Regions from separate parts of the Homo sapiens genome. Here region 2 is linked to region 1. Evidence: fine-mapped expression QTL. A gene starts in region 1. The other region holds a variant in brackets. All regions are shown on one strand. Distances are from middle to middle.

Region 1 (9,430 bases):
GTGGTCTGGCATGACTGCACAGCCAGAAAGTGGGCTTCCTCTTTTTTCCCTGTGCTCAGAGGGGATTTCCTCATCCAGGTGGGGGCTGTCTCTAGCTGCCTTCATTCCCACTTGTGTCAGGAGGCCTGGGCTCCCCAGCTAGTCCCTGGCTGGCCCCACGGAACTGCTGAGGACACAGAGACCAGGGAGCACCGGGAGGGAAAGGAAGTGAGTCAGCACCTCCTCTCAGGAAGCCGTAGACCCTCAGCCCTAATGTGACTCGCTGTGGGCAGAGACCCTGGACCTAAAGGTAAGGGTGCCCCAGGTCACTGTCAGCCCAGCTCACTGGACTACCTCCAGGGCCTGGCACAGGCAGGGAGGCTGAAAGCCTCTTCCCTGTGTCTTCGTGGCCCACCTGGGGGACCATCAGCACAGATGATGTTGGAAGCCTTCACCTGATGCTCCATCTCCGGCCCCTGAAAGGCCACTCCAAATTAACATATAGTCCAGGTGTGGCCGGGCGCAGTGGTTCACACCTGTAATCCCAGCACTTTGGGAGGCCAAGGCAGTTGGATCACTTGAGCTCAGGAGCTGGAGAACAGCCTGGCCAACATGGTGAAACACCATCTCTATCAAAAATACAAAAATTAGCCAGGCGTGGTGGGTGCGTGCCTGTAATCCCAGCTACTCAGGAGGCTGAGGCAGGAGAATCACTTGAACCCAGGAGGCAGAGGTTGCAGTGAGCTGAGATCGCGCCATTGCACTCCAACTGGGTGACAGAGCAAGACTCTCAAAAACAAAACAAAACACAAACAAACAAAAAAAAAACCATATAGTCCAGGTGAGAACTACACGTTTGCAAGGCCAAAGGCATTTCAAATCAAGTCCTCATGTTCTCAGCCACCACTGCCAACTGGGGTGCACCCCCACACCCCCTTGCAGAGTCTGAACACAAGGCTGCAGCTCATCCACTGCCATCCTCACCACTCCCCAGCAAGGTTGGGTATACTGTGCTCATTTGACAGGTGAGGCTGAGCAGCCCTGGAAGTGAATTAACCTGCCTGAGCCTGTCCATAAAATGGGGCTAACGACACTCACTCCTTGGGGCAGCTGCCCTGACTAAATGCACATAAAGCTCTCAGCCCTGTGCCTGACAACACATGGCAGCGACTGTTTTCAGGATGAGAGTCCAGCATCTCAACCACCTTGGGGACTCTCCCTCTCATTTCCCCCTTTCCCCAGGTTAGGGAGGAAATGAAATGGACACATCTCAGCATGTGTGTGTTGGGGGGTTGTCTCGAGGAAGGTACCTTGGTTTATGGCCCCTGCGGCCTCTCTCTCACTTCCCCCTTTCCCTAGGTTAAGGAGGAAATGAAATGGATGCACCCCAGTATGCGTGCGTGTTGGGGAGTTGTCTTGAGGAAGGTACCTTGGTTTATGGATCCAGGATACTGGGTGGGTGTCCCCCTGACCTTGGACAGGACCCATGTGCAATGTGGAGCTCGGGACACTCTGAGACACACCTGATCCCTGAACAGAAAGGCCTGGCTCTGAGGGCCATCCTGCGTAGTTCCTGTCACCTAGAAGCCAGGCATGGGCCCACATCCTGTTCAAACAGCTCTGAGCAAATGGATGTCCAAGGTTGCAATGGAGCTTGACCTCACCTGCAGGGATGGGAAGGACCCCAGAAGCGGTACCCTGGAATCACCCTTGGAGGGTGCATGTTCAAAATTTGGAGTCAGTGCACCTGGGCTGGGGCTTAGAGATTCTGGGTTTAAGAAGCCCTCCAGCGATTCTGCTCCATCTAGTGCACTTTGAGAAAGGTTGGGCTGGAGATGACATCTCCTGCCACACCCAAACTCCTCTCCCTGATCCCAAGCTGAGTCAGGGTGCTTCGGGCACATGATCACAGCCAATCATGTGTCCACCTTTGTCTACAGGATGAAGTCCAAATTACCTGAGGCTAGGCCTCAAGTTACTCCAAGAACTGCCCTCCCAACCTTATCTCCTGCCTCCTGACCCACGTCTTCAGTCATTTCAGGTCTCCAGGCTTCTGCACGTGCCATCTCTTCCCCTAGAAGTGTCCTGCTCCCCTTCAAGGGCCTGGTCATGAGATAAGAAGACTCACTTCTAAATTGCCCTTTCAAAGATGCCCCATGAGAGCTGGCTGGACAGGACCTTCCACCTCCTCCTCTCCCCTTGTCCACACACCTGAAGAACGCTACCACCGTCCTCTGCGACCACTGTCTTTGAAACGTACTCTCCCCACCCTGGGTTGTGCATTTCTTATTCTCCAGGTGTAAACACACCTAGAGGTTCAGCAAATGTTGAGAGACAGTGAGAGAAAGAGAGAGGTAGAGAGAAGGACAGAGTGAAGAAGAGAGGAAACGGGTGAGAAAGGAGAAAGGGTGGAAGAGAGAGAAGAGGAAGGAAAGGAGAAAGGAAGGGGAGAAAGCTGTGAGCTCGAACAGCCCAGGGTTGAGGAGAAAAGCACTCTGGAACAGACCTGCCCGATGCCTACCAGTCTGGAACTCAAGTGATTGAGCTTCGTAGTTCTCATCTGAAAAGTAGGGGAATAATGCAATACCCACCACCTAGGCTGACTGCAGAGTTAAATGAGACAATCCAGGCCAAGCGATTACAAGGGTGCCTGGCACTGGCACTCAACACCAACAGCCCAAAATGACTATTATTTGTTCTCATTGTAGCCCCTCCAGCGTCCGGGCACACAGGCGCCTTCAGTAAGCGTTGATTAGACATGACCTGTGACCCAGGCCCGGGACCCCTCACACTTCCAGACTCAGACTCTCCATTTACACGTTTGGAAACCTACCCTAAGCACGGCGTGGGAGGAGGCAGTGTAGGCCCTCGGTCCCTGCAGACCTGGGGAGATTGTGGAGGGAGGAGCGTCCCAGCTCGGGGCTACCACCCACTCCAGGCCTCGGCGTCCTCGGCCACAGCTCCCTCCTGGTGACTCAGCCCGGCGCGGGCCGCCTGTTTGGAGGGATAATGATAGGACAGCTGCTGGGGCCAGCGCCGCGAGGGCCCCTCGCCCGGCCGGCCCGGGAAAAACGAAGCCATCAGATGCCAAGGGGCCGGTCGGCCGGGGCAGGGCAACTCCTGGCCAGGCCAGCTCGAGAGGCCGCGCTGGTCGCCTTTGAGGTGGGGGGCCACTGGCTGCGGATTCCCGAGGGCCACCCAGTCCCGGCCCGGAGCCTCGTCCCACGATATCGCGCCACAAGGAGGGCGCAGGAGCCGGGACAGTCCAGCGGCCGGAGGAGAGGGCTGGAAGGATGTGGCAGGGAAGCCCAGGAGCCCCGACCCCCAGCCGTGAAGTTTGCCACCTGCCCCCGGTCCGGCTCACCACGTCCAGATCCGCCGCCAGGGCCCAGCTTCTGGGTCAAGGCCCGCCGGGTCAGCTGACCGCGCGCCACCGCCCCCGCGGGAACCGCAGGCCCCGCCCCCACGCCGCGCGCTGGGCTGACCGGGCCTGGAGGCGCCGCTGGGGCCGCGCCTGTTGTCCCCGCCCCCAACTGCCTCCGCGCTCCTCCCCGGCATGGGCGGGGCCCCCGGCTCCCAACGCGCAGGCGCCGCTGCTATGCTGAGTGCCGCGTCTCGCGTAGTCTCCCGCGCCGCCGTCCACTGCGCGCTTCGCTCTCCGCCGCCCGAGGCCCGCGCGCTCGCCATGTCCCGGCCACCGCCACCGCGGGTCGCCTCGGTGCTGGGCACCATGGAGATGGGGCGCCGCATGGACGCGCCCGCCAGCGCCGCGGCCGTGCGCGCCTTTCTGGAGCGCGGCCACACCGAACTGGACACGGCCTTCATGTACAGCGACGGCCAGTCCGAGACCATCCTGGGCGGCCTGGGGCTCGGGCTGGGCGGTGGCGACTGCAGAGGTAACAGTAGCTGCAGATCCTCCCCATGCATCGTGTAGAGCTGAGCCTGTCCCCAGCCGTGCACCACCCCGCTCGGGCCCGGCCGCGGGCAGCACCGACGGATTCGTCCCTCGCTCCCCACCCCAGGTCCACCCCGCAGCTCTGGGAACCCCGGGACAACTAGACAGTGCTTTGCCCTGACTCCTTTCCCCCACTCTCCTTCCCTTGGGAGTTGCAGCGCGAGAGTCTCCCCCCAGCCTGGTCTGACCCATCGCTTCCCACCTCCATTGATGCCCCCGCCTCCAAACCTGCCAGGTGCCCACAACCGGTCCCCACCCAGGCTCTCCCCCTTTTCTCTACCCCTTCGTTACCATCATCACGCATGCACACCCTGGGCACCCTTTTCTCATCCTGGCCTTTTCTTAACCACTAGAATTTGACCTGTGCAGCTGGCAGTACCTCTGCCTCTCTCAGGGAGAACTGTGGCGATGCCGTAAGGCTGGCTGGGAGAGTAGGAGTGTTAGGGAGTGCGGACGGGTCAGGGTGTAGGGACTTTCTATCCACTCTATGCCAGGCTTTGACTTGGGGCCATAGGAGGGAAAGTGATTCCAGCCCTCCACAGGGAGTTCAGAGTCTAATGAGGAAGATTGAAGTAATGATTGCTGGAGAGCCCAGAAGAGAGAGTACTTTAGGGAGCTGCAGGCCGGGGAGAGGCACTAGGGAAGGCTCAGCAAATGCTGGATGGAGCTCAGCCTTAAAGGCTCAATGGTAGGTTGGAGGAGAACAAGAGAAAGGAACATTAGAGTCTGTGCAAAGACTTGGTTTGGAAATGCAATGTGCGTGATGTGTGAAAGGAAGGCCACTGGGCAGGTGGGGCTTGAGTGGAGGATGGAGGGGACTGTCCCTCGTGAGCCTGGTGCCCTTGATAGCCCTTGGGAGGGTGCCTGGCACTCAGTGAGGGCCCAGGGAACGTGGGCTGTTACCCTTACCATGCTTCACCCACTGGACTATCCTGAGGCTGTTGCTCCCCACCCCTGAGGAGAGGTTCTCTCTGGGTCCTCCTGAGTCATAGCGCTTGGGGGGTCGGGGGGAAAAGAGGGCAAATGTGAATCTCAGGCCCACGCTGTTTCTAGTTCACCTGGCTGCATGTTGTTGTTTTTGTTATTATTATTATTTGAGACGGAATCTTGCTCTGTCACCCAGGGTGGAGTGCAATGGCACGATCTCAGCTCACTGCAACCTCTGCCTCAGCCTCCCAAGTAACTGGGATTACAGGTGCACACGGCCACGCCCAGCTAATTTTTGTATTTTTAGTAGAGATGGGGTTTCACCATATTGGCCAGGCTGGTCTTCAACTCCTGACCTCAAGTGATCTGCCCACCTCAGCCTCCCAAAGTGCTGGGATTATAGGTGTAAGCCACCACGCCCGGCCACGTTACATACTATTAATAATGAAGATTTTGTTCCTGAGTTGGTTTTTCTTCTCTAACCCTTCCCCGCTTCCGTCTTTGGGGCCAGGAGCTCACTGAACCAAAGTCCTCAGGCCAGGCCTGAGGCACAGTTCATGCCAAGAATGCCTGGGGCGTTGTGGGGAAATGGAGAAAATCTGGATGAGAAACTGTGGAACTTGTTCTGTCCCATATCCCAACTGATCTCGTGACACCCTTCTGAGCTACTGAGCTGACTTTGCTAAGTATGAAAAGTGCAGAATCCATCCCCCAACCAATCCAGACAGCTGGGGTTCTTTTTTTTTGTTTTGTTTTTTGTTTTTTGACACAGAGTCTCACTCTGTCGCCCAGGCTGGAGTGCAGTAGCACAATCTGGACTCACTGCAACCTCTGCCTCCCAGGTTCAAGTGATTCTCCTGCCTCAGCCTCCTAAGTAGCTGGGGTTACAGGCACGTGCCACCACGCCTGGCTAATTTTTGTATTTTTAGTAGAGACAGAGTTTCACCATGTTGGCCAAGGCTGGTCTCGAACTCCTGACCTCAGGTGATCCACCCACTTCAGCCTCCGAAAGTGCTGGGATTACAGGCGTGAGCTACCTTTCCTGGCCCAGCTGGGGTTCTTTTTTAATTTTTATTTTTGTAGAGGGAGGGTCTTGCTACATTGTCCAGGATTATCTCAAACTCTTGGGCTCAAGTAATTCTCCCTACTCAGCCTCCCAAAGTACTCCCAAACTAGGTTTACAGACTTGAGCCACTACATCTGGACCAACAGCTGGGGTTCTTTATAGGGGAAAGAATAGTGCAGAATTAACTCATTTCCAAGCTGCTCGGATGCAGAACACTGTTGTCATAGCGATGTGTCCCTACAGTGTTTGGATATATGCTCATGCTTCTGTGAGTCAGGAAGGGGAGGGGAGAATTATAATTACATTCTGCTCAGTTTGCCTTCTAAGCTCTCAAGTTGATCTCTACCACTGGGCCACATTTATGTGGCTGCTTCGCTTTCCTAAACTCTTCCAGGCCTGCCCCCTTGACTTCTTTCTCTATACTGCAGCCAAGTGTGAACACAGGTGACCGGTTCACACCCTGACAAAATCTGGAATGATCAAGTTCAGATTCAGTGGGATGGTATTTAAGAACTTTTGGGATGAGGTCTGTCCCTGTCTCTTGTCCTACGTCCCACTGCTCCTTGCTCTAGAATTTATGCTCTTATAACTTAGACTTGAAGGTTTGGAGCCTCACATAGTGTTTTTTTGCCTCTTTGACTTTGCATGGGTTCCCATGCTCTGGAGTGTACTTCCTGCTCTTCCTTGTTGGCTGGGACTCTGGGAGTGATCCCCTAGAGAAAGCCTTCCCTGGAGTCTCCAAGTTGGCTTCATGCATCTCATCTGGGCTCCTTGGCATCGTGTGCCTTTCCCTCCTGTGCTTACCATATTGTACCATCATCCTCTAGGGCTCCAGGAGGGCAGAGATCCATTGTGTTCAGTTCATCTCTGCATACTCAGTCTCTAGTGCAAGGCCTGGCACAGCCAGCAGGTTGGTGACTAATGATAGTTATTCTAATAGGTGAACATTGAGAACTCACATATATGACATTATTTAATCCCCAGGACCTCCCAATGAGGACAGTTTGATTATTATCACCCCATTTTACAGATCATACAATTGAGGCCAAGAGAATATTAGTAATTTAGCCAGGGTTACATGGTTAGCAAATGGCTCTAATAGGTCACTTAACCATTCCATTCTCTCTCCAAGTGAAAATTGCCACCAAGGCCAACCCTTGGGATGGAAAATCACTAAAGCCTGACAGTGTCCGGTCCCAGCTGGAGACGTCATTGAAGAGGCTGCAGTGTCCCCAAGTGGACCTCTTCTACCTACACGCACCTGACCACGGCACCCCGGTGGAAGAGACGCTGCATGCCTGCCAGCGGCTGCACCAGGAGGTGAGGGGGCCCTCCGAGCTCCAAAGGTGGGCTCCTGCTCCTTTCTTTATCCTGATCCTACTCATGAGAGCAGAGGCACCAGGGCAGTCCCAGGGTGGGGCAGGGAATAGCCCCATTCCCTGGGGCCCCACCCTGGCCTCCCCTTCCTGGTCTGGGCTACACTGCGTTCTGACTGGAGCCTCACCCATGCAGGGCAAGTTCGTGGAGCTTGGCCTCTCCAACTATGCTAGCTGGGAAGTGGCCGAGATCTGTACCCTCTGCAAGAGCAATGGCTGGATCCTGCCCACTGTGTACCAGGTGAGGGCCGGGGCTGCAGAGGCCAAGGTCTCCAGGACTCCTGCTAATCCTGGGCTCTCTTTGCCCCCCTGACTGCCCCCTGTGCCGTCTGCATAGCAGCCACTCCCCTGCTGAAAGCCTGCAGATGGCTCCCATGTACCCTCAGGATGCCATTCAAGCTCCTCAGCCTGGCCACTGGGCATCTGCTTCCTTCCTGCCTATCTGTGCACCTTGGACCCTTCCTTCCCCACCTCCTTTCATACTTCAGCCTGGAACACATTTCCCCTGCCCTCCTCCCTGGGAGAAGCACTCAGGCCTTACATAGAGGTCTCCTCCTCTGGAAGCCTTTCTAGACAGCCCCATAGGAGTCTCCAGTCTCCAAATCTCATCTTCATACATTCAGCGAGTACTTTCCAGCTCCTTGTTTGATTGTAGAACCTAACTTTATTGTAATTAACTGCCTTCCTTGTCTATTTTTTTAAACTTGAGTAAACATCTCCTGGAAGCAGGGATTTTGTGATACCTACTTGTGGTTGTAACCAGTGTCCAGCATGGAGTTCATACAGCAGATATTTGTGGAAAGATACCATTCCACTTCAATTTTCTGTCCTTGGGCCCAACACCTTCCCTCCATCCCCTACTAACAGTAGTGATGTTAGAATATTGCTGAAGTCCTGGGCCGGTGTTGCTTTAGAGGTTTGAAAGTGGAAGGCAACAGTTCCTTCTCTTGACATGTCCACCCTGTCCCCGGGGTCCCTCTCCCTGCAGGGCATGTACAACGCCACCACCCGGCAGGTGGAAACGGAGCTCTTCCCCTGCCTCAGGCACTTTGGACTGAGGTTCTATGCCTACAACCCTCTGGCTGGTACGTGGAGCATTCCTGACCCTGTCTCAGCCTATTCCTGACCCACAGATGCCCAGCCCAGAATTTATGAAGCAGGGAGGGTTTGACAAGAGGCTGGGCTGTGTTCTTCAGCCCCTCCTGGGTCCCTGCCCCTCCCCTAGACCAGAGCCCTGAGGGATGTGGCAGCTTCTGGGGCACTCTGGGGCCAGGGGCTGATTGCTGCCTTCCCGCAGGGGGCCTGCTGACTGGCAAGTACAAGTATGAGGACAAGGACGGGAAACAGCCTGTGGGCCGCTTCTTTGGGAATAGCTGGGCTGAGACCTACAGGAATCGGTGAGCCGGGGGTGGGCTTGGTGAGGATGGCTGGGGTGGGGTCAAATCTATGTGGAATGAAGTCCTGGGCTGTTCCTGAGGTAAGACCTTCCTTTGCTGTTTGCATCTCCTCCCCTGCATTGCTTCAGGAATTCCCAAGCCCTCTGTGGGTTTTCTTGTTGTCTTGAGACCTCTGGGGGGGAAATGAGGATCCCTGGATGTTGGGGTCTTGAAGTCATAGCTCGTTCCTGAGCAATCACCTGCTGGGAAGCAAAAAGCGAGCCCAGGATGGGCCAGGCATGGTGGCTCACACCTGTAATCCCAGCACTTTGGGACACCGAAGTGGGAGGGTTACTTGAGCTCATGAGTTCAAGACCAGCCTGGGCAACATGGTCTCTACAAAAAAAAAATGCAAAAAAGTGGTCAGGTGTGGTGGTGCACACCTGTCTGTAGCCCAGCTACTTGGAAGGCTGAGGCAGGAGGATTACTTGAGTCTAAGAGGTTGAGGCTGCAGTGAGCCATAATGATGCCACTGCACTCCAGTGTAGGCAACAGAGTAAGACCATGTATCAAAAAGCAAAAAGAGAGCCCAGGAGGGAATCCTGCCCCATCTGAGCAGCCTTCGTGTCCCTAGGGAAGTCCCTAGGCTACTGAGTCCTCAGGAGTAAAGATCCATTGAGGTCTCTGCTGAGGGGCCCAGCATCCTGGGTGGTTCTGATGCCCAGCAAAGTGGGAGACCTATGACTAGAGA
Region 2 (16,232 bases), 83 kb before region 1:
CTGTGCTCCAAACTCCAGTGAACTTCATGATACAGAAAGCAAAGAATTGAAGGGTATTAGCTGTTTGGGGAAAACCACTGCTCCCACCACCTGGAAGCCAAATAAGCAGATGTCCCCTCTGGGTGGAGCAGGGGGCCAACATCACTTTCTTATGTTATTATAGGTCGTCAGCCTATGTGTAGGCCATTTCAGTCTCATTGGAAATACCTGGAAAAATGCCTGGACTTGGAAAAATGCAAACAAAAAACACAGCACGTAGCTCTAAAGGGGTTGTTTAGTCCTCCCCTGAATTCTGTTTCTGCCTTAAAACACCAGAAGAGCTTTGGCTGTGTGCCATCTGCAGGAAGCACCCTAGGAAGGAGAGGATCCACCCTGGCTTCTCCCAGGCTAGGTGGTCCTTCGTTTTTCACCTTTTTAAAAGGCTCACCTGAGGCTGCTGAAAAGGTGGCAAAAGACAGGACTGCATGCTTCATTCCCAGCAAGAGTGTCAGGCAAAATTCGAACTCCTTGATCACCCATTGGTTTCCACATTCTTTCCATTCCGGAGACCAAGGGGAGATTTGCCGATGCTGATGCTCCCTGGGCTTTGCAAAGCTTTCCCTAATTAAAGTCCTCCCGGCTGTGTGCATAGCTCTTCTGCTGCAAATCTTTGCCCTTTTGTGTTTGTGTTTAAAATTCCATCTTTCCAAAATGTTTGCCCACTCAGCAAGTCTCCTTGAAAGCCCTCACTTTTGTTTGGGGGAAGTTTTTTTTTTTTCCTTTTTGGTTTTTATTCTGCCTATGTGTAGGAAATTTAAGTCTCTTAGGAATTGCTTGTGAAAATGCTCTCTGGTCTTTTTTTAAACCATGATGAGTGTCTCTCACCATGGCATTGGAAGCTGGCAAGGGATGCCCCTGGTGTCCGTGCTGTTAGCTGCCACTTGAGCTTTTAGATGGAGCTACTGGAGTATCATTTTGGTTCCATTCTAAGGAAAATGAACAAAAGAGCTTTTCCCTCCTGTTCAATGTGCAACAGTGCTACAAGGTGAGAGAAGTATGTTAGCGAGGAATCTGAACCAGGTCAGGATCGGGGCAAGGTGGTAGGAGGCTGAGCTCTCCAGTGGTGAAAAAGATGGCTCTTGTCACCTAGAGCCAGGAGGCATAATTCAAGTGAAGTGCATATAGGCCCGTTCCTTGGCCTTGTCCTCATAGGATTTTTTTTCCTACAAGATCTATCCAGGTCCTTCATTTGGGGAACCTTATGGACTCCTGTTGTTGTTGGAAGCCGGAGAACAGTGTTTGGAGAGCTTCCATTGAGGATGGTCTGAAGACTCTCACTTTAAGTTAGATCCTGCCCTCTGGTTGATGAGAAATGTGAGACGTAAAAGTGAATTGGAGAGAGATCCCACTTCCCCACGTGCCAGAAAAGGCAGACAACAACTCCCTCCTCAGAGCTGTTAGAAAGCCAACATCTCGCGGTTGGCAGGCACTGGCCCTGGATGAGGAATTCCTGGGTCGCCCCCCTTAGAACATGTCTGGTTTTGGAAACAGGTTAAAAATACTTGAGGAGGGCATGGCACGCTCAGTCTGCTTCCCTGATGTTTGAAATAGGCCAGGAATGTGGGCCGGGAAGCCCAGAGGAGCCTGCGTGTCCCGCAGGGTTTTGTAGTTGGAGCCTGGGGTTTCTCCTCTCCATCATCACCCCCTTTAACTGCCAGTGACCACATGCCAGATTCATGAAGGGCACACTGAAATTGACGAAGACCTGTGCCATGGGTAGCGGGAAAAACTGGGCTCCCTTTAGTAAGCAGGATGGTGTTGAGGTCTCGGAGGCAGGCAAGGGGTGGGCTCGGAATCTCTCCTGGAAGAGAAAAGAGAAGGGAATTTGGATTCTGTATACAAATATAGAAATTCCCTAAGAGTTTAAATTTGAACATGGCATTCAGGGGAGAAGATTATGGGTTCCAAGCCTTTTCCTTCTTCCCCTTCTTGTGAATAACTCACTCAGCTGCTTGCATCTGTGTCCTAAGGCTGTGAACCGAAGAGCTGGGCAGTCCACAGTTGGTTTGAGCCTCAGAGTACCTTGCTTAGTAAAGGTTTGTTTTAGGAGGGATGACACAAACTTTTGAGTAACTCTCAAGTCTTGAACTATGAAACTTCGTAGGATGTCAACACTAAAATGAACCTTACCGATTATCTCATCTAGTGGTTTTCAAACATTTGGAAAATTGGTACAGCCCTTTTTTTAAGCAAAATCTTAGAACTTGAATAAACCAGGTAGAAGGTGGTAGGCCCAGACTTCCTCTCCCACTCTTGACACCCTGAGCTCCTCCCTCTGTACTCACAGCCCTCAAAGTGCTCCTCTCTCAGAGAACCATCCATTGCAGAGACCAGGGAGCTGTGGCCCATGCCCCATGTAGCACCGTTTCATGGCAGAACCAGCTCTGACTTCCAGGCCAGTGGCAAGTCCCTGCAGTACCTTGGTTTATTTTGATGTAGGAAAAGCTCTGGGTAGTAAGAGTGAAGAGTCAAACAGCTACGACTGAGAGTGAGGAGAAAGACAACACTGCCCATGGTTCCTGACACCCAGGGTCACTTTTTACCAACCTAACTCTGGGTCACATGACGTACTCGTATTCTGAAACTGTTGGTTTCCTGGATGTCTACCTGTGATGTCTTGGATCCATGTGGTTCTCTCTGCCTAAAATATCCTCTCTTGATTCACCTTCTTAACAACAGCTTTCTGGAGATATAATTCACATAACATAACATTTACACTTTTAAAGTGTACGGTCCAATGGTTTTTAGCACACGCAAGAGTTGTGCAGCTAGCTGGGCATGGTGGCTCATGCCTGTAATCCCAGCACTTCGGGAGGGCAAGACAGGCGGATCACTTGAGTCCAGGAGTTCAAGACCAGCCTGACCAACATGGTGAAACCCTGTCTCTACTAAAAAATAAAAAAATTAGCCAAGCATGGTGGCAAGCACCTGTAGTCCCAGCTACTCGGGAGGCTGAGGCAGGAGACTTGCTTGAACCTGGGAGGCGGAGGTTGCGGTACTCGAGATCGCTCCATTGCACTGCAGCCTGGGTGACAAAAAAAAAAAAAAAGAGTTGTGCAGCTATCAGCATTCGGCATCCCACGCTGTCTGCCTTTGACAGACAGAGATGCTCTCTGTCTGCACCTTAGTCCTTGGGCTGCTTTGCGACCTGCCCTAACTGCCAGCCCTGCCTCACTTTCTGTAACTCAGCTCAGATGTGGCCCCCTGGAGATGTCCCCTCCAGTCTCCCCTGCTTGGTCGTTTCTATGGGTGACTCAGTGAAATTACAGCAAAACCTGATGAGACATCCCTCCAGTGGAAGGAATCCAGTGTGAAACATTGTGGCCAGACAGCCTGGGTGACTTTTGTGCTGAGAACAGCGAAGCAACCCGACTTGTTGAGTCTGCCTTAGCACCCGCTCCCCCACTCAGACACGTAAACATGGCACAAACACTCCCACTTGAAGGGAAACAGAAGTATTACTGGAATCATGGTAGGTCATGGAGGTTTAGAAGCTTGTGATCGTGAGGATTTTTGGAGAATCTGTTGGAGGAAGCCAGACCTCCGCCCTCTGACTCAGTGGCTCCGTGCTCTGAGCTGGTCAGCCTCTGCTGTGGCTTCAAAGGTCATTCGCCTCCCAAGGGGCTATCAGGACCCCTGGGGCGAGGAGTACAGGGCTCAGCACCTCGCCTGGCTCATCGGGAGACTGAGCAGGTGTGGCAGGATGACTGTGGCTCACCTCCGTGTGTGGGCCCTGGAGGTCACGGAGTTCCTCATCATGGAGCAGATCCTCTCGGACTTGAGGGTGTTTCACAGGCTTTCAGATTCTAAAGTATCCCCTGCGTTGCCATTGCCCATGGTTGCCTGGCCGTGTGACTCCTTATTGTCACTTTCTGCCTCAGGTGTCTCGTTTCTGCTAAACAGAACATGTGAGATTTCCCTGGCATCCCCACCAGTGTCGACGTGCAGATGAATATCAACCCACAGACCCCGATGCTGTTGGTCTGTCCCTCTGGGCGATCATGAGCCCCCCAGATCAGTGGTAAAGAACAGCCCTTCCTATGCTGCCCCATCTGGCTCCTCCCGCATTCGGGTGGCGCGCGCCCTCAGGCTTCCCCCTGCATTCTTATTTTGTAACTTCCATGGTAGCCCATTCATAGTTTTCACCCTAAACTCTAGGTTTAGACGTGGACATTTGGCACACATGTGGTTTATAAAGCCTGAGGCCAGGCCTAACCCTTAGTATCCAGTGATGATGAAATGGATGCATTTCCCATTTCCCTCCCTGAAATTAGGTCTTGATGCTGTACCCTAGTAGGTGGCTGGTATGAGAGGTTCCGTTCGCGTTGACCTTGTGTGAAAAACCAATCTTGCCAAGTACTTCTCTCTGCCACCATCCAGCTGGTGACTCTTTCAGCTGAATTATTTTGCCTGCTAGGTTACTCACCAGGTGTCATTCTAGAGTCCGCACGGCCTTAGGGTGGGATCGCATGGCTTTCATTGAATTACCTGCTGTGTGACCATAGCCAAGTTGCTTAACCTACCTGTGCCTCTTTTTTTCACCTGTAAACAGTAATGTGGGATAATAACACCCCTGCCTTCTGCAGGGTTGCTGTGATGATAAAATGAGGATGTGTGTTACATGCCTTTTAAATGGTAAGACCTAAACATCTTTGCTGTTATTCCAATCATAACTTTGATAGTTCAGTAAGTCCTCACTTAATGTTGTCCATAGGTTCTTGGGAATTATGACCTACAGCAGGCCCTTGAATAATGTTTCATTAAAATGTTGACGAGAACAAAAATTTGGTTTCACTATGTATCTTTTCACTTAAACGAGAGGACAGAGATCCTCTGTGAAATTACAGTGTCTTTGGAGAAAAATCAACTTATATATGAGTTATGTTTGTGTATTTTTACCTGGTCTTTTCCCAAAAAGATTTCAGGTGACAGAAGAATACAAGCCAATACGATAATCTTTTTTTTTTTAATTTTTTGAGACAGAGTCCTCTCTGTCACCCAGGCTGGAGTGTAGTGGCGCCATCTCGGCTCACTGCACCCTCCGCCTCCCAGGTTCAAGCGATTCTCCTCCCTTAGTCTCCTGAGTAGCTGGGATTACAGGTGCTCGCCACAGTGCCTAATTTCTTTTTTTTTTTTTTTTTGTATTTTTATTAGAGGTGGGGTTTCACCGTGTTGGTCAGGCTGGTCTCGAACTCCTGGCCTCAAGTGATCCTCCTGCCTCGGCCTCCCAAAGTGCTGGGATTACAGGCATGAGCCACTGCGTCTGGCCAATAATCCTTAATAAAAATGTGGACTGAGAAAGCTGGACCGAGGACTGAGGACCGTCCGGGAAGAGAACAGCAGCTACCCCGTGCTTGCCTTCATGCTGGGAAGGCTGCGGGTCTGGCTTTAGGAGGAGCCTGTGTAGGGTACGAGGGGCAGCGGCAGCTCCACAGCAGGCGGCAGCCCACGCCCAGTGGGTGCACACCTTCATCCAACTCAGGGCTGGCAGTCAGGAAGATGAAATGCCATCCACGTCAAGTTTCGGTCTGTCTCCCACTCACCGAAGAATAGTCCCTCCTTTAAGGGAGGTGCTGAAGAGTGCTGAGAACTTGCTTCCCACCAAGGCAGGCTTGGGCTTCAAAAGATCAGAACCTGACCCAAGTGGCCCTAGTTTTCCACCATCCCACACCATCCCACCAACGCTTCAGAAGTCCTGCCAGCATCAAGCCGGGCATGAGGCCGTCCAGACAGCTCATCACTGCCCTGGGGAGACACATGCATGTCACAAACCTGTGAGGCTCAAGACCGCATCCTGCACAGGGTGCAGGAGTAGAGGCGGGGCAACGGCCTCTGCCGTCGCGGCTTTGGGAGGTTGCAGTGGAAGAGGCAGGCGTGGCCGAATCAGACCCTGAAGGATGACTTAGGTGGAACACGGGGAAGAAAGGTGGTCTGGATAGACATGCAGGATGCTGGGTGTGGGGCAAGCCTGAGTCAGGGGAGCCTCCCTGTGCTCCTTAGCCTGAGGCCATCGCCTGGCTGTAGGCGGCAGCTTCTCCTGCCGGCTGGCTGGCCGGCTGCAGGCAGTTCTCAGCACTAAGTCCAAGATGACTTCCATTCTGGTGACTCGAAGGTGGTTTTGTATGTTGTGCTTCATCTCTCAGGGACGAGTCCTTAATTAAAAGCAGCCGGGAGCTTAGAGAGACCCTGGCTTCTCTGCACACAGGTGATGGGTTGTGTGCCTGGCCAGGAAATGGTTCATTTAATTAGGCTCCGAGGGCCTGGTTCATCCCCTTCAGGGAAGCTTAAGGTTACATGTGGACAACAGGAGCCTTGTGTGTGCCTGTGGTTGACCCAAATGTAGTGATTTTCATTTCTCCTTTCCATTTGTCTTCTTTGTTCTGCCCCTTCCTGACCCTTTCTTTAGGAAACCGTTGTGGCCCCTTCCAGGCTGTGAGATTCCAGAGGGCAAAGCTTTGGGGTTTGGAGTATGAATGGCTGAAAGCGAGCCCAGGAGGCCTGCTTTTGTTTATTATTTATCTCTGGATGGTCAGGGCACCTGTCTGAGAAAAGAAAGAGATGGAGGGGACTTACCGTTTCCTGAAAAAGCTCTTTGTTGTTAATGGCATGTGGAAGACTCATTTCTAAGTAGAATAAATCATTTGTTGGTCAAAAATGGCTTCCTAATGTTGGCCCTCTCGGCCAGCCTCAGTTGTATTAAACCCTAGGTAACCAACCACAACCCCCGCCTTGAGTCATGTGCCTCATATGAGCAGGTACAGATGCTGCTGCACCCTCGAAGGGGTTACGTGACGAAAAATCCACTGGAAGTAGAAAATGCTTTTAATCCCCCTAACCTGCCAAGCGTCGTGGCTTAGGCTGGCTGACCCTAAATGTGCTCAGAACACACCTACAGTTTGGTGAAAGCACCTGGCGCGCGGTGGCTGTAGAGTGTCATCGCTCACCTTTTTGATCACAGGGCTTGTGGGGAGCTGTGGGAGCTGCTGTCTCCCTGCGTCATGAGGGAGGATCAGACCGTGCATCGCTAGCCCAGGAAAAGATCAAAATTCAAACTACAGCTTCTACTGAATACTATCGCAGAATCAAAAAAATCTTAAGTCAGAAACATCTGTGTTACTCCGCCAGATGTGCTGTATGTACCATTATCTCAAATCTATGTTGCGTGGCTTGCTCACTTTTTTTGTTTGTTTGTTTTGTTTTGTTTTGTATTTTGAGACAGAGTCTTGCTCTGTCACCCAGGCTGAAGTGCTGTGGCGCGATCTCTGCTCACTGCAACCTCCGCCTCCTGGATTCAAGCAATTCTGCCTCAGCCTCCCAAGTAGCTGATTACAGGCCTGCGCCACCACGCCCGGCTAATTTTTGTATTTTTAGTAGAAACAGCGTTTCACTATGTTGGCCAGGTTGGTCTCAAACTCCTGACCTCAGGTGATCCGCCCACCTCAGCCTCCCAGAGTGCTGGGATTACAGGCGTGAGCCACTGTGCCCAGCCATCGCTTGCGTTTTAATGTTGCCAAAATTGGGAAATTGCTTCTTACACTTAATGTGTACACTTAGCGATGTTATAATTACTGGTGCATCTTACAACTTACAGCCTTCACAGGAAGAAAGCAGGCTGTGCTTGCACTTAAAGAATATGGCCCTTGGCCAGGCGCGGTGGCTCATGCCTGTAATCCCAGCACTTTGAGAGGGCAAGGAGGACGGATCACCTGAGACCAACCTGGCCAACATGGTGAAACCCCATCTCTATAAACATATAAAAATTAGCTGGGCATGGTGGTGCACACTTATAATCCCAGCTACTCATGAGGCTGAGGCAGGAGAATCACTTGAACCTGGGAGGCAGAGGTTGCAGTGAGCCGAGATCGCGCCACTGCACTCCAGCCTGGGCAACAGAGCGAGACTTCGTCTCAAAAACAAAACAAAACAAAAAAATATGGCCCTCAGCGCCAAGTGACTTCTTAAAGAGGAGAGAGGCTGGACCTGGAAGTGTCCTCTTGTGTGTGGCCCTGGCAGGCGGGGGGCCAGTTTCTCACTAGGCTCTGCTGGGCAGTAGGCACTGAGCCCCTGCCCACACGCCAGGAGTCCCCGAGGCCCAGAGTGGAAAGGTCACATGTCGGATCTGCTGTGGGCTGTGGGCTGTGGTGAGGGGCAGGAGAGCCCAGCCCTGCAGCCCTTCCCAGGCGACCCCAGGCACCTTGGGTCTGCCGTGACCGGGCACTTGGGGGAAAAAGCTTTGGTCCTCACAGTCCCATAATTCCCCCAATTCTATTCTTTTTTCCTCCCCTGTCCCCTGAGCCTGACTGGGGATGGGGGCAGCTCGCCTTGTTGA[C/T]CCGGTGGGGCCTGGTCTTTGGAAGAGCTGGGTCAGTCTCAAATTGAGATTCTCATTCCTCTCCACCTCGTGTTGGCTGGGACAGCCGGGGCCAGCAGCTTCCCCGTGCCTGGGTTTTCTCATCCACAGGTTGGGGGGTGCCCTCAATCCTGCCTCCGAATAGGTGCGCCATACCCTAGCTCACGTGGCTATTATCCTAAGGAGATATGTTTTGATGCTTCCTGGGGTGAGCGGGAGCCCCTGGGGTCCCCCTCTGGTTACTCAGGGGTACCACTTGCCTGAGTCTCTGGGAGCACAGCTGCTTCCCGTCCAAAAACAAGCTTGGCCACCCGGGTGTGACTTTCAGGCCCGGCGCGAAGCTGCCGCCTGTGCAGGTGCCTTCTCATTGCAGAGGTGGCCATGCTCAGAGAGCCATTAGGCAAAATGGGTCGGAAGCTCCAGCCTCGGCTACATGAAGCTGTGCTTCCGTGGCTCAGTGTTCCTAATGACAAACTGGGGTCCCTGTAACGAAGCTGCCCTTGGGGAGTTGGGGAGCAGGCTTGTGTTTTCTCTACACTAAGTAGTGGTGGTGGGGTGGGGATTCCTGCATCTCTCATAGGCTGGTGGAGGCCATGTGTCCATCTGGACAGACCGGTGAAGGGAGCCCCACTGAAGGGATCCTGACCTGGAGGCCATCTCCCTAGGCGAGGACAGCCAGCTTGCAGGCCCTCACTGGGAGGCCTTTCCCAGCATGTGCTCTTGTACCTTTTTGAATTCTGACCTATGTGAATGTATTACCTATTATACATAAGTAAACACTTTTTTTCTTGAGTCAGGTTCTTACTCTGTCACCCAGGCTGGAGTACTGTGGTGCAAACACGGCTCACTGCAGCCTCGACTTCCCGGGTTCAAACAATCCTCCCACCCTAGCCTCCTGAGTAGCTGGGACTACAGGAACATGCCACCATGCCTGGCTATTTTTATTATTATTATTTTAGTAGGGACGGAGTCTTGCCCTGTTGCCCAGGCTGGTCTCGAACTCTTGATCTCAAGCGAGCCACCGCAGCTGGCCTTTTTTTTTTTTTTTTTTTAATTCTTAAGAAAAGCAGTGTGCCAGGGCCTGCCCTCACACTTGGAGTGACCCAGGAGGTGCTGCGTGCTGCCTCACTGGGTCTCACTCCAGCCGCGCTTTGCTCCTCTCTGTTCTTGCACTTGCCTCAGTGGCCTCTGCAGCAGAGCCTCATGCCAGCTCTTCCCTCTTCTTGGGATGCCCCTGTTATTTTTCCCTGCAGTCTTGGAGGGCCGGCTCCTTGGTCATTATTCACATGTCATCTCTGTGCCACCTCCTAGACTGCTGACTTGCCCCCACAGCAACCCCCTTCTGTCGTCTCCTGCAGGTTCGCTTCCTGCCTCTTTTTTTTTTTTTTTTTTTACCTTGAGACAGAGTCTCTCTGTGTCGCACAGGCTACAGTGCAGTGACACAGTCTTGGCTCACGGCAACCTCTATCTCCCAGATTCAAGTGATTCTCCTGCTTCGGCCTCCTGAGTAGCTGGGATTATAGGCATGCACCACCACACCTGGCTAATTTTTGTATATTTTTAGTAGAGATGGGGTTTTGCCACATTGGCCAGGCTGGTCTTGAACTCCTGAACTCAAGTGATCCACCCTCCTCAGCCTCCCAAAGTGCTGGTTACAGGCGTGAGCCACCATGCCTGGCCTACCCTTGCCTCTTGGAGATGCCTCTGTGGCTGGACTTTGCTGTCAGAGCAGGGCCGCCCATGTCCATCTCTTCCCGTGCTGAGCCCTTGCACCTGACACGGGCCTGGAGCGGGCATTCGGGGTTTATGGAACAGTGTGAATTTCTCCTTGACATGGATGTTGTAACCCCCAGTTCCAGAGACTTAGGAAGGTTACACTCAGCCAGCAAGTGACTGACCGAGGATTTGAACCTGTTCGGTTTCGAGGTTGGTGTTTTTACAGAATGCCACACTGTATATTTTGTTTCTGACACGAGTGTATGTGCCACTTGAAATGCTCTTTTATCTTTTTAAGAAAGTTTTGGGCCTTCTGGAAAAATAAAAGGAACAAATTGTCACAGAGCCCTCTGCTGGACGTCGGCAGCTGCAGCATTCTGGCGTGGCAGTTTCCTCTGAGTGCACCCAAGTACGCAGAATCTGTTTTTGATTCCTATCTTGCTGGTGGTGGGCTCTCGGCCAACAGGCAGATCAAAAGATGGAATGTGTTCATTTGGCCATTTTTTAAAAAACCGAGGTACAAGGGTGCACTTCTTAAAGACAAGGGCGCCGTGGGTTAGACTCCGTGGGTCTGAGCTGCTCTGGCTTTTGTGCTTTTTTTAAGGGTTCATCTCAAGTTTCTTTTTCTGGTTGAACAATTTTTTTCAACATTAATAACTAATGGAGAAGAGGAAGAGGCAAAGTAGAACCATATGGCGGCACAAACACGAACCTCACTTGTGGCCGGAAACTTCTGATTTGTATCTCTTCGTGTGATCAGCTGTTGGGTTGGATGATTTAAGAAAAAAAAAAAGTGTTCAGTTTGGGAAAAGCAGTTTCTTTTTGAACCTAGCTGTGCTGTATATAACTGCATGTCCTTCCTCAGACATTGGCCCGTAGCTGCGTGGCTCCGGTCAAGTTATTTCTCTAAGGCCCTGTTTCCCCTTCTTTAAAACAAGGACTGGAGTGCGTGTCTGTGTGAAGAGCCATTGTCAGGATCATAGGGAAGGGCAGGGAGAGCTGCTAGCATAGTGCCTGCCACGCAGGGCAGGGCTATTACGATCACCTGGTCCTTCCACGGATTATTATTCAGGTGTCACCTGAGGCCGTTGCCAATGGCATCCTAGTCTCTCCCTTACCTTCTACCTTCTGGGGTTTTTTCTTTTCCCTGCCCTAGTTCACTTTACCCACTCCCCACCCGTCTTTCCAGTGGCCTCCTGGGTACCACCGAGCCCGGCAAAAGTATCGGTGGTGAAGGACTTGTGGCTCCTGCTCCCTGGGGTGGGCACACTCCTGTGGCAGCAGAGGAACTGGTGGAGCCCTGAACTCCCACCAGAAAGACGGCAGGCACTGTCCTGACCAGTGTAGTGTTTATTATTCCAAGTCACTGGGAATTATGTTTAAATCCCCCCAACAGCCTGGATTGGTCTGACACCTTTGGTGTTATCTGAACCTTCCCTCCAAGGCCGTTAGGCAGTTCAGATGGGTGGTTTAGACAGAAACCATCCGGCTGCCGCGTGTCAGCACCGCTCCTCCTCCTCAGAGGCCCTCCCTGGCTTTGGAGGCGACAGAGCCAGTGCCACATGCACCCCAAAGTGAACTCTCGGCTTTGTTTGGACCTGTCGTTTCATTTAAATCACTGTACAAACCCATGGTCTGTGACACTTAATGTGATTTCTTCCACTGCTCTAAGCACTCGACATGAGTAGGGGGCGGGGGCCGGGGTTCAGATGAGTGTAGGGACTGGTTAGATTACAGAGATACACTGCCTTCATTCTGGTTCTGTAATATGGCCTCAGACCACAGGATTAATATCCACTTACATGGAATCAGCATGCATTGACTGATCCCTGCTGCAGCGGGCGTGATGCTGCGCTGAGGCTGGAGGGCCTGTCTTGGCCTCTGTAGGTGTGGAGTCAATTCACAATGAAAAATGCTAAGTGGTGAGGAAGGAGTAAGGTGAAAGTCATTGGCAGTATTAGAACAGCCATCCCCAAAGCATTTAGGATTCAGTTGATATTAGTGTTACTGCAGGAATTCTGAAGAATTTGACATCTTGATAAAGAAGTTGGAGTTTGGGCCAGGCCCTGAAGGATCAGTAAGATTTAAGAGAGCAGTGGGGATTGGCTGTCAGATTTAGCAAATAAAAATACATGGCCTGGCCAGGCGCAGTGGCTCACACCTGTAATCCTAGCACTTTGGGTGGCCGAGGTGGGTGGATCATGAGGTTAGGAGATAGAGACCATCCTGGCTAACGTGGTGAAACCCCATCTTTACTAAAAATAGAAAAATTAGCTGGGCGTGGTGGCACACACCTGTAATCCCAGCTACTCGGGAGGCTGAGGCAGGAGAATGGCATGAACCTGGGAGGCGGAGCTTGCAGTGAGCCGAGATCGCGCCACTGCACTCCAGCCTGGGTGACAGAGCTGGACTCCATCTCATTGAGAAAAAAAAAACACACGACCCATGTAACCTTTAGGAAGTAGTCATACTAAAATGTTATTCATTGTGTATCTGAAATTCAGACTGAACTGGCCTCCCTCTGTTTTATCCAGCAACCCTCAATGGGGAAGATGTTTAAGTGGGGGAATGCACGTGCATGTTCAGGGAGTGGTGAATGGGACCGTGTGGTTGTTTGAGGAGTTTCGGGCAGAGGTGGAGGGACGGCGTGGGTATGAGACGGGATCAGTGATGGTGCCAGGTCGTGACTAATGCACCTTTGGGCAGCTGCTGTGGTCCAAGTCTGTGGGCACACCATGTATTATTCCACATTTCTCATTCCCCATGACAACGAAAATGTTATTATTCCAGAGCAGATTATCTTTGATCAAAAGAAACAGCGCTGATGGAAATATGGCCAAAACTATGGCCCAGCTTAAGAGTTGATCCAAAAGGCAAAAATGGTGCCTGCTTGGGTGGAGTCCGTTGGCCATATCAAGTCCCAGAGGCTTTTCACTGTAGGACAAGCAGTGCCAGTTTTTGAGTTCCAGTTTAAATGTATGTTTTTCTGGGGTTGGTTAGTACCTGGCATACTGGCTTTCAGAAGTCCCATCACAGATCTTCAAGGGTGGTCTGTCTCCGTGCAGCTCATCTACTGTGTTTGACAAATGAACAGTCTTGGGCTTTGCCTAAGGTTCCGTGGCCAGCTCACAGCAGAGCAGAGGCTAGAACCCAGGTCTCTTAGTTCTCACTCTTTCCACCAATGCTGTGGCTCCTTGAGGTCATATGTTAATAAAAAATGCCAGGGCTTTCATGACAGCTCCGGTTCTCTTTGTTCAGTGCTTTCCCACCATACCATGGTTCATATCTGAGAGTGCTGGGTTGGAACCACACAGGAAACTTGTCATCAGCATCCATTCAGATTTAGTTCTGGACAAGTGCTTTTGCTAAAGATTCCTATTACCTGCCAATTTATTAATTTTAAAGTAAAGTTGATTGGAGTTTGGGAGGCTCCGTGTTGTAAAACTCCTCCTTTCCTCCCTCTTTCCCTCCTTTCTTTCCTTCCTCCCAAATATATTAAGCATTTGCTGTGTGTCAGGCACAGCCACAGGCACTGAGAATCCTGCAGTGAGTAAGATCGAAGTCCTTGCCCCAGTAAAACTTACATTCTAGTGAGGGATACAGATAACTGATCAATGAAAAAATACTCCACCTGGTGTTAAGTGCTAGGAAGAGATTACTCAGATGCTTTCGATTCATAGATGAATCTCTTGGATAGGAGTAGAGTCAAGCCTCTTTTATACCAAACCCTATTTTCTTGTGAGCTTTCCTACGTTGAGGGGACTTAGCTGCAAGCAGTGTGCCTGGCAGGAGAAGGGAAACAGCTGGCTCCAGGTGGAACTGGGGTGAAGCACCGGATCCTCACAGGTACGTTTGTACCCTGTGTCTGAAGCAGCACAGTGAATTCAGGTATGATCCAGGCTATTGTTGCCATCTGAGAGTAACAGGTGACAGATGATATTGTCTAAAGGAAGGGAAAGGAACCTGAACGTGTCAGGCAGTAACATACGTGCATTTCCCTGTGCCAGGCTCTGCCCTGAACACGGAATGCATTGTGTCATGTGGGTCCTCAAAATCACATGGGCATGGGCACCCAGATGGGTTGGTTTTATTATCCCCATTTTACAGGTACGGAAACCAAGTCTTAGTAGAGAAGTAAAATGACTTACCCAGGCCATAAGGCTACTTGTACGCAGCGGAGTCAGGAGGTCTAACTTCAGACCCTGTTTGCTCAGTCTCTACTGTAATTGAGGAAAAATTGAGCTGATGGTGTCAGGACTCCAACCAGAGAGAATGGGTTCCAGGCAAAAGTTGAGGCCCAACAGATAAGCCAAGGCAGCATCCCAGCATTATAAACAGAGATGCTTAGGGACAGGCATGATGTGTTAGGTGAGGTGGCTTCATTGGCTGTGGCAGCACAGCAAGGCCTCTTTCAGGTCCCAGATGGCCTCGGGTGGAAGCTGTTAGACCTTCCTTCCTCAGCCAGGACTTCCTTCCAGTTGAAGGGCTCTGTGGCCACAGCTAAGCAGGGCTGGGGCTAGGAGAGGGCTGTTTGCCACCAGAGGGTGCCTTTAGCATGCACTGTCCTTCCCCTTAGCTGGACATTAAACCAAAGTTAGAGTAGGAGGAGTAGGGACTTTGGACTCATCTGGCCCTGGTTTTGTTTTCTGTCTCCACTGCTTGCTTCTTGTGTGGCCCTTGGGTAACTTTATGGCTCCCGGCCTCAACTCTAATCTGTAAAATGGGGCTTTGCATACCCACTTTGCAGAATGCGTGTGAGCTTTCAAGTCAACAATATGCTCTACCATAGTGCGTGGTGCATGGCAGGCACATGGAAATGGTAAGGTGCATGATATTATCACCAAAACCAACTTTGAAAGTAGCCCCCATTTTTATTATGTTTGTTAGGAAAGGGCAGATACACATGGAGAAAGAATTCTGAAAACAAGCACAGGTACAGGCCAGGCCTGGGGGCTCACACCTGTAAGCCCAGCACATTGTACACAGGGGTTGGTGGTGTATGTCTATCTCTTTGGGTACTGTCCCCTGTATAAGAAACAGATCATCTCACCAAGGCCAGAATTTCTGTGAGTTATGAGGCAGGGTTACAGTCCTTTAGTTGTGCTGGGCGTTGCTTTCCAAGCTGAGTTCTAAAGCACCCTGGAGGGGCAGCAGAGGAGCCCGTGGAGGCTGGGTGGTCCCTGTGGTGGTGGGACTCCCTGTCCCTGCCTGTCTCTTGGATGGTGGCAAGGGCCTTCTGGAAGAACACAGGAACCACTGTCGCTGTCAGCCCGTCTGCTGAGCTGCTCTGCTGGTGTCTTTGCCATACGATGGAATTTTTCCACTGGGAAGGGTTATTGGTGCAACTGGCAGGCACTTTCCTGGTAAACGATATGGTGGAGCCCCCATAAACCCAGGCCCATGAAACAAATAAGTCAGCACATTGAAAATATAGCGTGGAAGTGACTCAGGCCTGAAGGAATCCATTTCTGAAAGTGCTGCCATCCCTTTCTGGGATATTTTGGTAGAAATTGATGTTTGAGTTGGGAGGAGGAGGCCAGTGGCCTGGTTACTTGCAGAGCCTTGTGTCAGAGTCGCAACATTGGCCCAGAGTTTGAGTCCTGCCAGCCCCCGACCGCGGGGTCATCTTTCTTGGTGAGGCGGCCCCCTGGCAGGCCAGCCGGAGGTGAGCCCACTGGGGCTCTGTGCTGTGGGGGAGCCGGGGTGAAGCTCTCTTTGCAGCAGATAGAGTTGACTCTACAAGCCAACTGGTAACACTTGGCTAGGGGCCTGGAAAGTACTGGAGACTCCACCCAGCATAGGAGCCTGTGGGAGTTCCCGGCACGGACGAGTTTTTCTACTCCGAGTTCTTTAGATTCCTGTGTATTTGAAATGTTTACCTTCTTCTCGGGACTTCAGCTTGTACTTTGCCCACCAGAGACCAATACCAAGCACATACACACTTAAATTTACTAGGCCACCCTGGTGACCAGGTAATTAAAGCTGCACACAGTTTTTGGAAGGAAGACTGTATTAGAAATCACGCTCCACTGTAATTCAAGAATGGGTTTCTTTATAGAGGGACACAGTTGGTGTCAGACACATGTGGAAAAGAAAAGAACAGGCCCATAATTTTGTCTCAGTGCCCAGG

Evidence for each region.
Region 2: its variant is fine-mapped to the expression of SLC66A1 in whole blood (INTERVAL, PIP above 0.99).

The regions. Positions count from the first base shown.
Region 1 is chr1:19,306,272-19,315,701 of GRCh38, reverse strand. It overlaps SLC66A1 (solute carrier family 66 member 1), which reads right to left and starts at 3,376. Exons shown (of 8, transcript NM_001040125.2): 1 at 2,813-3,376. It overlaps AKR7A2 (aldo-keto reductase family 7 member A2), which reads left to right and starts at 3,558. Exons shown (of 7, transcript NM_003689.4): 1 at 3,558-3,875; 2 at 7,060-7,247; 3 at 7,440-7,544; 4 at 8,292-8,388; 5 at 8,601-8,700. The coding sequence starts at 3,578. RefSeq lists enhancers at 1-253, 3,468-3,967 and silencers at 3,067-3,156, 3,237-3,876.
Region 2 is chr1:19,385,735-19,401,966 of GRCh38, reverse strand. The region is part of intron 2 of CAPZB (capping actin protein of muscle Z-line subunit beta); the gene reads left to right. Among named protein-coding and RNA genes, the nearest start is that of SLC66A1, 82 kb to the right of the region's middle. RefSeq lists enhancers at 107-786, 8,793-8,932, 10,465-10,514. The variant C/T (reference allele first, on the strand shown) is at 8,369.